Regions from separate parts of the Homo sapiens genome. Here all the other regions are linked to region 3. Evidence: fine-mapped expression QTL. A gene starts in region 3. Each other region holds a variant in brackets. All regions are shown on one strand. Distances are between the middles of the regions.

Evidence for each region. PIP is the estimated chance that this variant, and not a neighbour inherited with it, causes the effect.
Region 1: its variant is fine-mapped to the expression of SERGEF in whole blood (TOPMed, PIP 0.94).
Region 2: its variant is fine-mapped to the expression of SERGEF in whole blood (TOPMed, PIP 0.97).

Annotation. Positions count from the first base shown.
Region 1 is chr11:17,844,777-17,850,007 of GRCh38, forward strand. The region is part of intron 10 of SERGEF (secretion regulating guanine nucleotide exchange factor); the gene reads right to left. It overlaps LOC124902642 (a long non-coding RNA gene), which reads right to left. Exons shown (of 2, transcript XR_007062610.1): 2 at 2,527-5,231. LOC107984317 (a long non-coding RNA gene) reads left to right here and starts at 2,599. Exons shown (of 2, transcript XR_001748144.2): 1 at 2,599-5,231. The variant T/C (reference allele first, on the strand shown) is at 2,350.
Region 2 is chr11:18,081,652-18,086,873 of GRCh38, forward strand. It overlaps SAAL1 (serum amyloid A like 1), which reads right to left. Exons shown (of 12, transcript NM_138421.3): 9 at 5,215-5,222; 10 at 1,884-2,080. Among named protein-coding and RNA genes, the nearest start is that of SAAL1, 22 kb to the right of the region's middle. The variant C/T (reference allele first, on the strand shown) is at 2,673.
Region 3 is chr11:18,010,090-18,015,320 of GRCh38, forward strand. SERGEF (secretion regulating guanine nucleotide exchange factor) reads right to left here and starts at 2,958. Exons shown (of 11, transcript NM_012139.4): 1 at 2,862-2,958. The coding sequence starts at 2,921. RefSeq lists silencers at 215-274, 2,626-3,245 and enhancers at 1,233-1,750, 1,751-2,267, 3,626-3,675.

The DNA.
Region 1 (5,231 bases), 170 kb before region 3:
ACATGGGCCAGGGGTATAGAGAGGCTCTACGCCAGAGGTGTCCAATCTTTTGGCGTCCCTGGGCCACACTGGAAGAAGAATTGGGCCACACAAAAAGTACACTAACAACAGCTAATGAGCTTAAAAAAAAACAAAACAAAACAAACAAACAAAAAAAACAGAACAAAAAACCCCTGTTTTAAGAAAGTTTACAAATTTGTGTTGGGCTGCATTCAAAGCTGTCCTGGGCCACATGCAGCTCGCTGCCCGTGGGTTAGCAAGGCTGCTCTAAGACAATGAGTGTAGGTAGGCCCTTCTATAGGTCCTCTGAGTTCATGGAGCAACTTCTCAGCAGCCATCTCCACCAGGTTCCCTTCTTCTGTTGTTTCACTGTGGTTTGCCTCTGTAACTGCTTGTTCGAGAACTCTGTCAGCAAACTCTACATGCTCTGCTTCAACTTCTTCATGTCCATTTTTTTTTATAGCCTTAGCATAACAAAGTTAAATTTGATTTACCTTTGGGGGCTCAGCTATCAAAGCCTACTCCTTCTTCTACTCTCAGGCCATCGGCCCTGGGGCTGATAAGGAAACACAGAAGCAGTGGTTAGAGGCGTAAGTAGAAGACTCAGTAGAGCTCACTGTTAGAAAAGCCAAGTGCAGAAAGGGTTCCAAACAGGGGCACAGCAGCAGTGCTGAGTGAAGAGGCAGCCTCAGTAGGAATGGGGTGTCTCAAGACTTGGGCTCAGCTGACTGGCCTCTCCATCCTGGCTCTGTTCACTGATATACTAGGCAAGACACACCCTTCTTTTAGCCTCATTTTTCCCATTTGTAAGTGAAGAAATTGAATTAGCTTGTGTCCATGTTTCCCATCCAGATTCTGAAATTTGAGATTTTCATTTTTTTTCCTTTGGCATTGGATACAAATGACTAAGACTGATACTGTGACTCATGTTTATAATCCATAACCACAGAGTCTGAAATCTTAGAGCTAAAAGAGATTGACCAATACAATTCTCTCTTTTCTACTCATTTGATGATAAAGAAACTAAGGTCCAGAGAGGGCCCACTTCCAGGTCTATAGAACTGGGAATTGGGTGCTTAGAAATTTGCAGTTCTGATAGTCACCAGGTGATTAAGTTCTGGAAGGGCAGGAACTATCTGTCTTGTTCTCCACTGCATTACTGGCCAGATTTTTTTAAATGCTTGTTGAGTGAATGAATGAACAAATAATCTCCCTCCAACGTCATGCAGCCTGGGACCAGGGAAGTATCCTTACTCCTTGCCTGGAGGTAGGGGCAGATAAGACTGAAGCCACAGACTGCTTCTGGCCCCTAAAGGGATGGTGCTCTCTAGCTGGGGAGACAGAACAGAGCCAGGAACAAATTCTCAAGGTTGGTGGTGCCAGCAGCTCTTGGCCATAAAGTGGGCTTCTACTAGAGTCCTTCGTGCTGTGCATAATGAATCACGGTATGTCAATTACTGCATTCTGTTAACAAGCTCATGTCCACCTGTGTATCGCCAATGAGTGCCTTGCAATTTGCCACAGCTCTGCAGTTAATACACGGCAGAACAAGTGGGGCAGAGGATTCTGAAACACTCCAGGCCCAGGGAAATCAGGTGGTTGGTTTGTTTTTGGCAACTACTGGGCTTGATGATTGGGCAGCAGTATGTAGAGATGTATTCTCTCCTCTCTGGGGAAAGGGTCTGTGTCCTGGGTCTTTCCTGTCCTGATTCAGATAAGTTCAGATGGAGAACACCATCTTTGTATTTTTTTTTCTCTGAAGTATTGAACAAAACGGGGCAGAGGCAGAATGGTAATTAAAAAATCACCTCCAGCATGGTTTGATGGTCTGGTCATCCGATCATCAGCACTGAAGTCTCTCACAGGATTCAAAAATGGCTCCATGACACATGAACACTGTGATCTTGAGTATATCTCTTAATTTCTCTGCAACTCCATTTCCACATCAGCAAAACTGGGATAATAATACTTACCTTGCAGAGATACTGCAAAGATTAAATGAGAGAATGCATATTGAACCCAGAATGGTGGCTGACATGTAGCAGGTATATAATAGATGAGCCTCCTAGTATGTTAGAGGTGTTTCCTGAAGGGATTCTAATCTCCTGAGGAAGACTAGGGCCCAAGACCTTAAGCAAACCCAGGCAAGAGCCTCTGTGTCTTAGATGTGTGTGTGTATTACCCCCTAGTGGCTCCACAGTAATGATTACAACTGCAGTCATGTGAGGATGTCAGATCTGCACCTCACCTCCACACTGGCTGTGCGAGAAGTGAGCAAGCCTCCTGGTGACAGGGGAGGCTGTTCCTTTATCAGGCAGCACCGCTGCAGCCCCTGACCTACTTTCTTAC[T/C]AAAAATAGCTCTTCTTAGGTCACTGCCGCAAATTGAATTCCACTGCTTCACTGCACCCTGTAAGCAGGTGGGTGGGCGCCAGAGCACATTTGGTGAGCTGCAAGCCTCTGCTTATGTGGTGCATTGCTGCCCAAGGATGCTAATTCCACATGCCTGAGCAGACGGCAGAACGTGTCTGCACTCAGCAGGGCTGTACGTGACCCTGCTGGGGTTCCTTTATTTGGGGGGAAGGGGGACAGGGAGGGGCAGTGAGGGAAATTCTAGATCCAGTTTTGAAGTCTGACAGAACTGAATTGAAACACAGCATCCAATGCTTTCTTATTTGACCTTGGGAAAGTCACAACTTCTCTTTGCCTCAGTTTTCTCATCTGTAAAATGGAGAAAATAAAACTGACCTTAAAGTATGATTGTATAGATATTTTAAAACGCTATTTACAAAGCAGTCTTTGGCACAGAAGAGGAGCCCAATAATGAAGCTAGTACAGGTATTCTCCATTGTATGGCCTGTTGCTCCACATGCCCTCCAGCTAAAGCCTCTCATAGCAGGGGGAGCAAGGGACAGAAGGCCAATCAAAGAATTAGGAAGATTTTAAGCTGAAAGGGCTTTAGCAGTACTGAGGTCAAAGGTTCTCAGACATGGCTGAGCATCCCAATAACTGGTAGCCTGTTAATAATACTGATTCCAGGTCCTTATCCGGGAGACTGGGACTCAAGAAGTCTGTCTAGGGGCCAGGGTATCTGCAATTTAATAAGCTCTCCAGGTGATTCTGATGAACTGCCAAGTTTGAGAACCTCTGAACTAGGTCAGTCACCTTGTTAAAGTAAATGAGTAAATGAATTACTACTATTTTTCTTCCATTATAAGCACAATGCATAGTCATTATAAAATATGCAGAAAACATGGAAAAGCAAAAAATCAAAATAAAAAAGTAAAAATTCAATCATATATTGAGTGATTATTAAATGCCAGGCCCTTTGCTGAATCCTAGGGATTTGTTGATAACACAATTCTGACCCTAAGGAAGGCCCAGTCTATGTGCAGAGATGGAAACAAACAAGAAGACTGTAACAGAGGACATATGTGTTAGAGCCAAGTTACAAATTTTATAGAAAGAAGGATGAAGGAGCAACTGATTCCACCTAGGAAGTCAGGGAAATTTGCAGAGCTGGACTAGAAGAAGAGCAGATATTCATGGCGAGACAAGGGAGTAAAGGGAATTTCAGGAGGAATGAACCAGACATACAAAAGCATACAGGGATGAAAGGTATTTGTTAGGAAAATGTCCTAAGGTCACCATAGTGAGGTCACCATATACAGTAAATAGTGGTGGCACAAAGACAGCTGGTGTGAACATCTGGGTCTGGATCATGAAGGGTGTGGATAACATCAACAATGCTTCCTACACTGGAAAGTATATTTCCCAGTATATTTTTCATATGTGCCTTTTTGTTTTCATTTTTACATGACCAATGCTGCAATTCTTACTTAATAAACACTACAAATTAGTGAAGCAGATAGGTCATCTTTTATCCATTACCAAATGTTAGTAAAATTAGGTAGCTCCTAATTTTACTAAATTATAAAAAGACTATGATGAACATCTTTAACCATAAAGTTTTTTTCCATATTTAAGATCTTTCCTTAGAGAAGAATGCTAGGATATGAATTAATAAATGAAAGTGAATGGACATCTTCAAGGCTCTTGATAATAGCTCCAAAGGATTTTCCAAAAGTGGCACAGATGTTTTTATAAATGAGGAGATAAGGCCCAAAGAGGTTCCATGTCTTGTCCAGATTATACAGTCGAATGGGGCGGTACCAAGAGCAACATCTGGGTCTCCCAACCCCCACTCTAGCTCTCTTTCTTCTGACCACATTGCTTTTCTACAAATCATAGAGAGATGAAATAATATCTATTCACCCAATGCTTCCAATCAATTCTAAGTATTTTAGGTTGGCAATGTACATGCATAGGAGATGTGAGTAACATGTGTGTGTTTACATGCACATGTGAAGCTCTATATACGAGTCTATTTTTCCATCCTTATCATGTATGCTCCCCTACCAATGACAATTTTTGTTCTAGCCAAGCTGAGCAAATCTTACATTGTCTTACCTCCACACCGTTGATCCTACATGAAGTATCTCTTGTTCTCCTAGTCAAATTCTATGCATATTTTTAAAATCCAAAAAGCATTTCCTGACTCTGGGCACTTACTATCAACAAGAGTCATACGTGATACTTACTTTATTGCTTTGCAGCAGCTCTGGTATTGATATAAAATTATTTAAGTTTTACCTATACAATAAAAGCTGCCTCCAGCTTCTGTTATTAGAAAGGGATAAAACAACCCCCCCAACCCCACCCTTGAGGCTAATGAAAAGACTTCTAGCATTTGATGGGCTGAAGACAGGTAAGGCCAATCCCTTGTACCTTCTATATCTACAGTAGTAGACATCTTGGTAGACTGGAAAGAGCACAGGACCAGGAGACAGAATAATAATAGCTTCCATGTGCTGAGGACCTACTCTGACCAGGCACAATGCTGGTTGCTTTATATACATTATTTAGAATCCTTAAAATTACCCCCAGCAAGGGAAATATTATTTGACCCATTTTACAGATGAGGAATCTTAGGACCTGAGAGATTAATTTATTCACGGTCAATACCATCAGTAAGTGGCAAAATCAGGATTTAAACTCAAGTATGTCTTACTCAAAAATCTATGTTTTTTTCTGCTTTACTATATTATGTCTCAGCAAATGTCATTTCAGTTCTATCTCTGTTACTTTCAAGATACATGATCTTCTCCTGGTCTTTTTTTCTGTTGCTATAACCGAATACCACAGGCTGGATAATTTATAAAGAAGTTGATTTG
Region 2 (5,222 bases), 72 kb after region 3:
ATGTAACCCAAACATGTTCTCCACTGTCGTCTTTACTTTAGTGAAGGGCACCACCATCCACCCTGCTACACAGACTACAAACTTGGAACACAGCCAAGACTTTTCCTTCTCCCCTCCTGCTGACTCCTCCCGGCAAGTGCTCAATTCTATTCTACCAAATCTCTCTTACCCCCATCCCTCCTCTCCATTCAAACTTCCATTGTTTAGGCTGCCATCATTTTTCAGATTATTCTTGAAGATTACCAACCACAAGAGCCTGTTAGTTGATCTCCTGCCCTCCAGCCTCAACTCTCTCTACTCCTTCCTCTCTATTGCTTTTGGAGTAATCTTTCTAAACTGATCGTATCACTTGGTGCTTAAAAGTAAAAAATCTTTAGTAGTTCCTCAGCTTTTTCAAGATGAAGTCTAAATCCCCTAAATATGACATAAGAATTTGCATGACATAGCACTCGTGTATTCTCAGCCCACCTTTCTTTGATGTTCCCACCACTTAAAAGTTAAGAAATATCGATGTCCCTTGCTCCAAAAAACAGAAACAACAGCAAAGAATGGGAAAAAAATACATGCGATAAATATGGAAAAGATACATTATTACCCAAGAAATTCATACAAATAATCAAAATGGATAAATTATTAAAAGGTAGGAAACAAATTAACATACGACATCCAAATATTTCAATCTCATTAATTTAAAAATGCAAATCAAAGTAAGACACAATTTATTACCTGAACTTTGACATAAAAATTATAATACCCAATAATAAGCGTCAAGTAAAACCAACATTTTCACATATAAATAGCATTTTGACAAAATATGGCCATCATGACTTAGCCATCTTCACATTTATAATGTTGAATCCAGTAATTTAAATTATATAAAACCTGCTAAGGTAATAACCCCAAATCTGGAAAATACAAATATGGAAAAGGGAAGCAAGACAACTAATAAAAAAAAAATCACCAGAATAAGAGAAACTTTTTGTTTCATTTTGTTTTTTGAGATAGGGTCTCACTCTGTCGCTCAGGTTGGAGTGTAGTGGCACAGTCTGGGCTCACTGCAGCCTCGACCTCCTGGGCTCAAGCAATCCTTCCATCTTTGCCTCCCAAGTAGCTAGGATCACAGGCGTGTGCCACCATGCCCAGCTAATTTTTGTATTTTTTGTAGAGATGAGGTTTTGCCATGTTGCCCAAACTGGTCTCAAACTCCTGGGCTCAAGTGATCCACCTGCCTCAGCCTCCCAAGTGCTGGGATTATAGGCGCCTGGCCAAGAGAAACTTCTTAAGGAATACTCTTTAAAAAATTAAGTGGGTATGAATAAATATATTCTTCACAGCTATATTTATAACATTTTATATTCATAATACAATATATTCATAACATATTCATAATACATTTCTTTCCAAATATATGGATAGAAAAAACATGGTCAAAAGAAGAATATTAATAACCATTGAACATATTCAGGGAGAATGTTCCTTAAAAGAAGTTTGCAGTAAATTTTGAAAACTGATTATTTGGTAAATTAGGTTTAAACTGGCTCTCAGTAAAAAAGTCTTTCATCTAGAATCAAGAAAAATGTTTATAATACAGTGTTAAGGGAAAACAGTAGTCTATAAAAATTGCATATGCTGGGTTAAAGTATATGAAAAATGCATTTATAAAAACACATGCATGCAAACATAGGCATATGTCTGTCACACGTAAATATACCAAACCACATCAGCTAGTTGTTTTTAAGATTATAAACTCATGGTGATATTAAGATTTTACTTTATTTTCCCAAATTATATATTACTTTCATATTTAAAAAAAAATAAAGTTTGAAGCGTTAAGCAACCCACACTTTCTTTTGCTTATGACATCATCAATACTTCTTTCCTACCTTTGTTAATGCCTGAAAAATATTAGAAAGAAATTCACATAAAATATCCTTTAAGATTTTCAAGTGGAAATCATCTTGGGTTAAATCAGTCCTTTTAGTTTCCTCTGTGTTAGACTCTGCCGAGTTCTCTGGTTTTTTCTGACACTGTTCCATATTTTGTAAGACCCGAATGAGGCTGTCAATTAGAGGAAGATCTACTGTATAAACAAATCAAGAAGCATGGAATTGGCCAGTTAAGTTTGGTTTTTCATTCATATGTATTGAATTAGTGCTAGACATTATTATTTTGGGTATTACAGATACACTGGTAACATCAGCAAGATGTCAGCCCATAAGAGGCTTACATTTTTATACTTTCAAATAAGTAAATAAAACAGACTATTTCAGGTTTTGGTTAAGTTCTATGAAGGAAATAAAAGAGGAATATAATATAGCAGCCTAGCAGGGCTAGCTCTCTGACAAGGTAACATTGAGTTGAGAACTAAAGCAATGAAGCATCAGCAATTAAAATACCCTAGGAGGTCAGGGGTGGTAGCTCACGCTTGTAATCTGAGCAGTTTGAGAGGCCAAGATGGGCGGGTAGCTTGAGCCCAGGAGTTCGAGACCAGCCTGAGCAATATGGTGAAACCGTGTCTTTACAAAAAGTACAAAAAAATTAGCTCACAGGATTTTTCTACCACTACCACTGTTACCATCTTGGTCCAAGTTATAACATTTCTTGCTATGAGTCAATTATGAAGAATCTCTAAAAGCCTCCTAACTCATGTCCCTTTTGTACCCATGACTCCC[C/T]ATATTTCTCATCAAAACAGCAGCCTATTAAAGCCAGCTCATGCGTAGGCAACTTCTGCTTAAAACCCACCATGGTTCCCCACCTCATTCAGAGGAAAAGGCAACATCAGGCCCTCCATACTCTACCTCTCTGGCTCCATGTGCTACTTTGCTAAATCCACCCCAGCCATATGGGATCTCACTGTTCCTCCTCAAAGACACCAGGCATACTTCTGGTTGAAGGCTTTTACACTTTCCATTCCCTCTGTCTGGAATGTTCTTCTCCCCAAGTATGCACATGACTCCCTCCATTCTGTCCCTAAGGACTGTACTCAATGCCACCTTCTCAATGAGGTAACGTATCTACAAATGAAGATCTTAAAAATATTCAACATTCCTTTTTTATTAAAAACTCTTAATAAAATAGAAACAGATTAATATTTCCTTAAATGGTAAGACATATATCTGTTTTTGGAGGGGGGGTGCGGAGTATTGCTCTGCTGCCCAGGCTGGAGTACAATGGCGTGATTTCAGCTCACTGCAGCCTCTGCCTCCCAGGTTCGAGCAACTCTCCTGCCTCAGCCTTCTGAGTAACTGAGATTACAGGCATGCGTCACCAAGCCTGGCTAATTTTTGTATTTTTAGCAGAGACAGGGTTTCACCATGTTAGCCAGACTGACTTTGAACTCCTGACCTCAGGTAATCTGCCCGCCTCAGCCTCCCAAAGTGCTGGGATTATAGGTGTGAGCCACAGCACCTGGCTGTAAAACATATATCTTATACCCAATAATGCTTAACAATGGAACTCTAGGATTATTCCTACTAAAATCAGGAAGAAGGTAAGGATGTTTTCTACCATCACTATTATTTTACACCAGAGACTCTAGGCAACCCAGAAAGACAAGAAGAATAAACCAGAGATAGACAAGTGATAAAATATATCTAACTTAAGCCAAAGCACTATCAGATAAAGCCCAAAGATTATTACTGGAACGACTACTAAAAATATTAAGAATTTGGTAAGGTTACAGGATACAAAGTTAATATACCAAAATCAATAGCCTTCATATATTCCAACAATAATAATCAGTGGAAGAAAATATGTCACAGACAATAGTAAACCCAAAAGATACAATTATCTAGGAATGAAACTAATAAGAAATATCCAAGATCCATATGAAGAAACCATTACTGAGGGACACAAAAAAGACCTGAACAAATAAAAGGGCATAACATATCCTATCAAGTTAACACGATGTCAACAAAAATGTCAGAAATTTTTTGTTTTTGGAACTCAAAGTTAGTGATAAAAATAGTTAAAAACATTCTGAAAACTTAGAATGAAGAGGAATTTGCCTTATTAGGTATTAAAACATAAAACCTTAATATTTAAAAACACTATGGCTACTAATATATGAATACAGCAATGGAACTGAACAGAATATATAGGGGAATTTTAAAAATAATGATGAAATTTCAAATCAGTGTGGGTAAGCTGGATTATTCACTAAATGATGTTGAGATAACTGGGTAGCCCTCTGGGAAAAAACTGATACCACTAGAACCAAAGTTATCAAAGGGGGAAAAAAAATTAAAGCCACACTTCACATGTGACACGAGAATAAATTCTAAATGAATCATGAATTTAATTGTGGTCATAAAAACAATTCTGTGAAAGAATATGTGTTTATATAGGAAAATATTCATTTTATATTTCTAAATGAAATGTTGGCTAAAAAGCAGAATTAAATATATGTGCATGTGTGGGATGGTAAGATTACAAACATCATGTTTCCTTGATATTTTTTATAAATTTTTCGGCAGGGTGCAGTGGCTCATGCCTGTAATCCCAGCACTCTGGAAGGCAAGGCAGGAAGGTCATTTGAGCCCAGGAGTTTGTGACAAGCCTGGGCAAGATTGTGAGACCCTGTCTCTATAAATATTTAAAAACTAGCCAGGTGTGGCGTCATGTGCCTGTAGTCCCAGCTACTCAGGAGGCTGAGGTGAGACAATCACCTGAGCCCAGGAATTCAAGGTTGCAGTGAGCTATGATCCTGCCACTGCACTACAGCCTGGGCAACAAAATAAGACTCTGGCTTTAAAATAAGTAAACAGGCCAGGTGGGGTGGCTCACGCCTGTAATCCCAGCACTTTGGGAGGCCGAGGTGGGTGGATCACCTGAGGTCGGGAGTTCGAGCCCAGCCTGGCCAACACGGTAAAAACCCGTCTCTACTGAAAAAATACAAAAATTAGCTGGGCATAGTGGTGTGCGCCTGTAATCCCAGGTACTTGGGAGGCTGAGGCACGAGAATCACTTGAACCCAGGAGGCAGAGGTTACACTGAGCCAAGATTGTACCACTGCACTCCAGCCTGTGCAACACAGCAAGACTCTGTTTCCAAAAAATAAAAATCAATAAAAAATAAAATAAATAAATATGATAATAAAATAAATTTTTGAAGTTTAGCATGTAATGTTTTTATAATTAGGGAAATGAAAGCATTTTTTAAAAGGGAGAAATAAATGAAATGAAAAACAGTATGAGCCTGGGAAACTGTACTTGCCTTTTTCT
Region 3 (5,231 bases):
CCTGGAGATGAGAAGTAAAATCTTTTAAATATGTTTGTTTTTGAAGACACCTGAATGAGGAAAGGTGATGTAAAATAATTACAACAAATACATATATACATACTTACATACATACATACATAATCCTTCCCCTTGTAGTCTATTTCACAGCCATCCTGGGCTGCAAGGACTCAAAGATGGAAGAGTAAGCCATAGCAGGGGCATAAGTCCCAGAAGCCCACAGGGGGCAATATTAGCTACCAATTACTGAGTGCTTCTCTCCATACTGTGCATTCACCTTTAATCCTCACAACAACTAAGAAGGACATTATTACTCCCATTTCACAGAGGAAGAAACTAAGGCTCAGAGAGGTTAAGTAACTTTCCATAGTTATATCTGGGTAGGCAAAAAGTCTGATGCCCTGCACCTTTTACTATACCTTACTGTGTCTCTTAGAAAAAATAAAAAAAGGACATACAGTGAAGCAGCCCAGAGCTTACCTGACAGGTGGTTAACTGTATGACTTTATCTAAAAGAGCATCCCCATATCACTCATTTTCTGCTTTATTTTTCTTCATGCCACTTCTTGATGTTACATTATATATGACTACTTGTTTACTGTACACCACCCCTGCCAGAAACTAAACTCCAGGAGGGCAGGAACTCTGCTTTGCTCACTGCTGTTTCCCCTGCATCTGAAACTGTGCTGGCCCAAAGAAGATGTACATATATTTATATGGCGAATGAATGTAAGACCCTATGAAAGACTTGCTCAGCATGAAGGGGAATATAGAGCATATATGCACAGGATTTCTTGGTCAGCCCTGAGATCTCCGTGGCTGTCCCATTACCAGGGGTGCAAGGCTGCTGAACACCTGGGAGAAAAGTAACATGACACATGGGCACTCTGAGGTTCAAATTACGGTACCAATTTTTGTAACACTGTGAGAGGCCCTAAATCCAGGATAAAGCAAGACGAAGGGAAATTTAACACAACCTATTACAACTGTTGTTTGCCTTTCTTCCTCACAAACACTCCAGACATATCACACGTGCACATGCACACATACACACACACACACACACACACACACACACCCCTAACAAGGTAAATCCCCTTCCTGTGAACCGAACTTTATTCCCCCAAAATTCACGTGTTGAAGCCCTAACCTTTAGTACCTTACTGTATTTGGAAAGAAGGCCTTTAAAGGGGCAATTAAGGTTAAATGAGGTCATAAGGGTGGGGCCCTAATCCAATATGACTGGTGTCCTTAAAAGAAGAGACACCACGGATGCTCACGCACACAGAAAAGGCCATGTGAGGACACAGTGAAAAAAGCCATGTGAGGACACAGTGAGAAGGCGGCCATCTGCAAGCCAGAGAGAGGCCTCGGGAGAAACCAAACCTACTCACACCTTGATCTTGGCCTTCTAGCCTCTGGAACTGTGAGAAAATAAATTTCTGTTGTTTAAGCCTCTGTTGTGTGGTATTTTGTTATGGTAGCCCTAGCCGACCAACACACCCCCACAGTTTCAGATTATACAGCAGGAAAAACACACTACCAGTCCTCCAAACACAGCAGAAGGGTGTCAACAACCTATTAAACATATTTTACAACCTTTAATATTCGGCTTTGTCTGTACTGAAACAATATTTCTGTTTCCTCTGTCCACACAGACGCCAGTCTCCTGCCTGGAAAAAGCCAGAGACAGCACACATTCAATCCCCAACTCCACCCCCAGCTCCCGGGCCACCTCAAAGACGCCCAGCCAGCCAGACTACCGCAGGTCACGCCATGCTCTCCCTCCTGCCAAATTGCAGCCCCACATTCAACAATTGCCGCCTTGTACTGATCATTACTTCTTTAAAAATTGGACAACTAATACTGATTTTAACAGCAATACAGGTTATAATTTTGCTCTCCCCCAACACAAGAGCTGGAAGTCCTTCACTCGTGTATTTCACTCATGTGTATTTCCCCAACACCAGCACATGGGTAGGCACACAGATGCTCGTTCATTCATTCGTCAACGAGTATTTACTGGGGACCTACAATGTGCCAGACACCAAGAGAGGCACCGTGAACAAGACAGGCACAGCACCCACTCTTACCACACTTACTTTCCAGCCAGAGAGACTGACGTTAATAATAAATTATACACATCATTACAATTGTGATACGTGCTATGAAGAAGCACAAGACGCAGCGACTGCTTGTTCCCGTGCATGCTGGTCGGCCACCTGCCACGCTCCTGTGCATGAACCCTCCTCTCTCCCAGACACACATCAAGATGACCCTGTCTCTCCCAATGCTCCCGTCAAACCAACAGCAGCCCAACTCCCCCAACACATGCAAGAACCGGTCACAGCAGAGTGTCAGCAAATAGGCAGGGTCTGTGCCTTGTGCGCGGCCAAACACCGCAGGCCTCACATCTAAAGGATGCTTTCGCCAGGCTGGGACAGGGTCTCCCTCCTCCAGGCATCAGGAGTGTGGGGGGCACAGGTGGCCCCACGGAGCTCTGGGACCGGGCGATCCTCTCCACCGAGCCCTCCGCGCTGTCTTCCAGGCGCTATTCGGGCTGGAGGGCTCTCGCGGAACCAGACGCTCTGCCCCGAGGCAGGTTCTTCCCGCGGCGCCACAGCCCCTCCGGCCCTGACCCCGCCAGCCGGCAGGCCCCTAAGTCGACCGCGAAGACCCTTCCTTCCCCGCCCGCCCGCTCCTCCTCCGCTCCCCCTCCGCTCCCAGCCCAGGATCCTTCAACCCAGAGCCCGGCTCGGACCTCAGCCGCCCAGCCCCTGAACTGCCCACGCCGCGGCCAGCAGCTCCCACATCTCGGCGCCCCTCAGGGCCTGCACCGGCCCGGGGGCGGAGTCACGTACCCAGGCGAAGAGCGCGGCCGCCGCGGGGGCGGCCTCCGAGGCGCTGGGCTCGCGCTCCATGCGAGGACGCTCCGCCGGCGCTTCCGGGAGGGACGGCACGGGGGCGGCGCCTGCCGGGGGTAGGTGAGCGCCGGAGCCGGACCGGGGACGCGTGATGGGTAGGGCGCGGGGCGGGGTCTGTGGTGGGAAGCGGCCCGCAGGCCGGGAGAGAGGGTGCGGCCGGGCCCTCGGGCCACTGGGGATCAGTGGTGGGCGGGGCCGGACGACAGCCCCGGAGCCGCCTCCCAGTCAGCCCGCCCCGGCGGCGCTCGCAGCGTCTCCGCCCGCAGCCTCCTGTCTCGCTGGGCCTCTCAGCCTCTCGCTCCTACCCCCTCGTACTCTTTATTTTTAGTCATAATTTCATGTTTCATGCAGGTGCACTGCGCGCCACAGTTCACAAAGCTCCTTCGCGTTTTTGTCTCCTTGGAGGCCCACGACAGCCCAGAGGGGCTGACAGGGCAGCGATGGCATCACCATTTGCGGGAACAGGAAATGGAGCCTGAGGGGTAGGGCAGGGTCCTGCCCGGCGTCTCAGGCGCAATTGTCTTGAGCCCGCTTTGGTGTGCGTTCGCAAACATCTGAGGGGGCGCCTTGGGAGGCGAGTGGAGTGGCACGTCGCCGGTGTCGCCCTCTGCACCTGGCACGGAGCGGGAACCCGCGCCTCGCGACGCTGAATGGGGGAGGCTGGTTAGCGTCGACTCCTGCCGGGGCAGCCTCGGCGCTCCGGGCACGGCCCTGAGCTCATTCTATTAATAATACTGGATAATCGTCACCCAACGAACATTTCCATATAAAATGGCTTTTCTCAGACAGCGTCGTGTTGCTGATGGGAGTTAATTAAGTTCAATTTATCTGAAGGAAAATATGGCACCGCGTACCGGGAATACAGAACACATAGGGTCACATTAAAGATGATCATCCACATTCACATTCGGTAGCACTTGGCCCCTCTGCTGACACGGGCCTCCAGCACTCACTGCCCTTCACCCCTGGGCTTCTGGGAAGTGTCTCCAATGAGCTCTTACACTGTCCTTTCCTGTTCTTTCACTCCATCCACTTTTAGGAGTTTCTGCCTGTAAGACCACTTGAGGGCAGCCCCTCACCTTTATCTCTCCAACCTGTGGCATCTGGAGAACGTCGATGACCATACCAAGAAAAAAGCAAACTTTGGAGAGATAAAACAGCTCTTCATTCTCTAGGGATCTGAATGTGCAGGAGCTATACCATGCTTACTGACTGTCTTATGAGTGGGCTTTTTTGTGCTGACCATTTCTTTGAAGCATGTGTAACAGGATGTAAAAATGGGATCCTTCACCGCTCAGTTTTGGCTGAGCAACAAGTGCCAGTTACTCCTATATCATAAAGTAAGGTTCAAGACCACCAAAGCAGGTCTTGCAAAGCAACTGTCTAGAAACCAGTGTATGACTTTCAGTCTACGAAAAAGGTTGAGAGGCCAGAGAGAATTCTAGTAGGATATGTGGCCACAATTATCAATGTGGTGTGGGTCTCAACCCATCTCAGGTCTAAGGAAAGTTACTTTACCTGGGTCCCTGAGAGAGCTTGGTATGCATCCCTCTAGATTTAGGACCCAGACAGGCTTCTGTCCAATCCGTTCTGAGAAATACAAGGGCTTGTGGCTGGATATCTGCTCTAATAGCTGAGCAAAGACAAACTGATGCTTTGGGGAGGTCTTTCACACCCACAGTTTTTCAAAATAAAAACTGTCCATTTCCCATGTGAGTATTTCCCATACCTGAGCAAACTGGCTGGGGGATGGTCTTAGACCTTGTCCAAGAGAATTTCTGGAAGGGTGAAGTGACACCCACAGGACAGTCGATCACTAGATTCCTTGAGGGTGAGGGAAATGAATTTAACAGCCCAGAGAGATACATTTACCTACATCAAGAAATCCCAAGAAATAAGAAGGTGGGAAGGTCTTCCAAAATGCCCACAAGAAAATGTCAGCATGTAATATTTACAAAGTACAGAAAGCACTGATGACAATTCACAACAGTATCAGACCAAAAAGAACTTTTCTCCTCCTTACCTCTCCTCCCCTCTACATCTCCCCAACCCTGGAGGAGTCCCAGGCATCCACTGAGTAACAAGAGACAAGGAAATTAAGAAACTAAGCACACCCACTCCTTTCTCAGTTCTGGAGGAGGAAAAAAGCTTCAACCTTAAAGTTTGTTTTATCAAAGTTTTTCCACAGGACTAGCCTTTTTAAATATTGAAATGAGAAAGAGAGAGAGAGAGAGAGAGTGTGTGTGTGTGTGTGTGTGTGTGAGAGAGAGAGAGAGAGAGAGAGAGAGAGAGAGAGAGAGAGAGAGA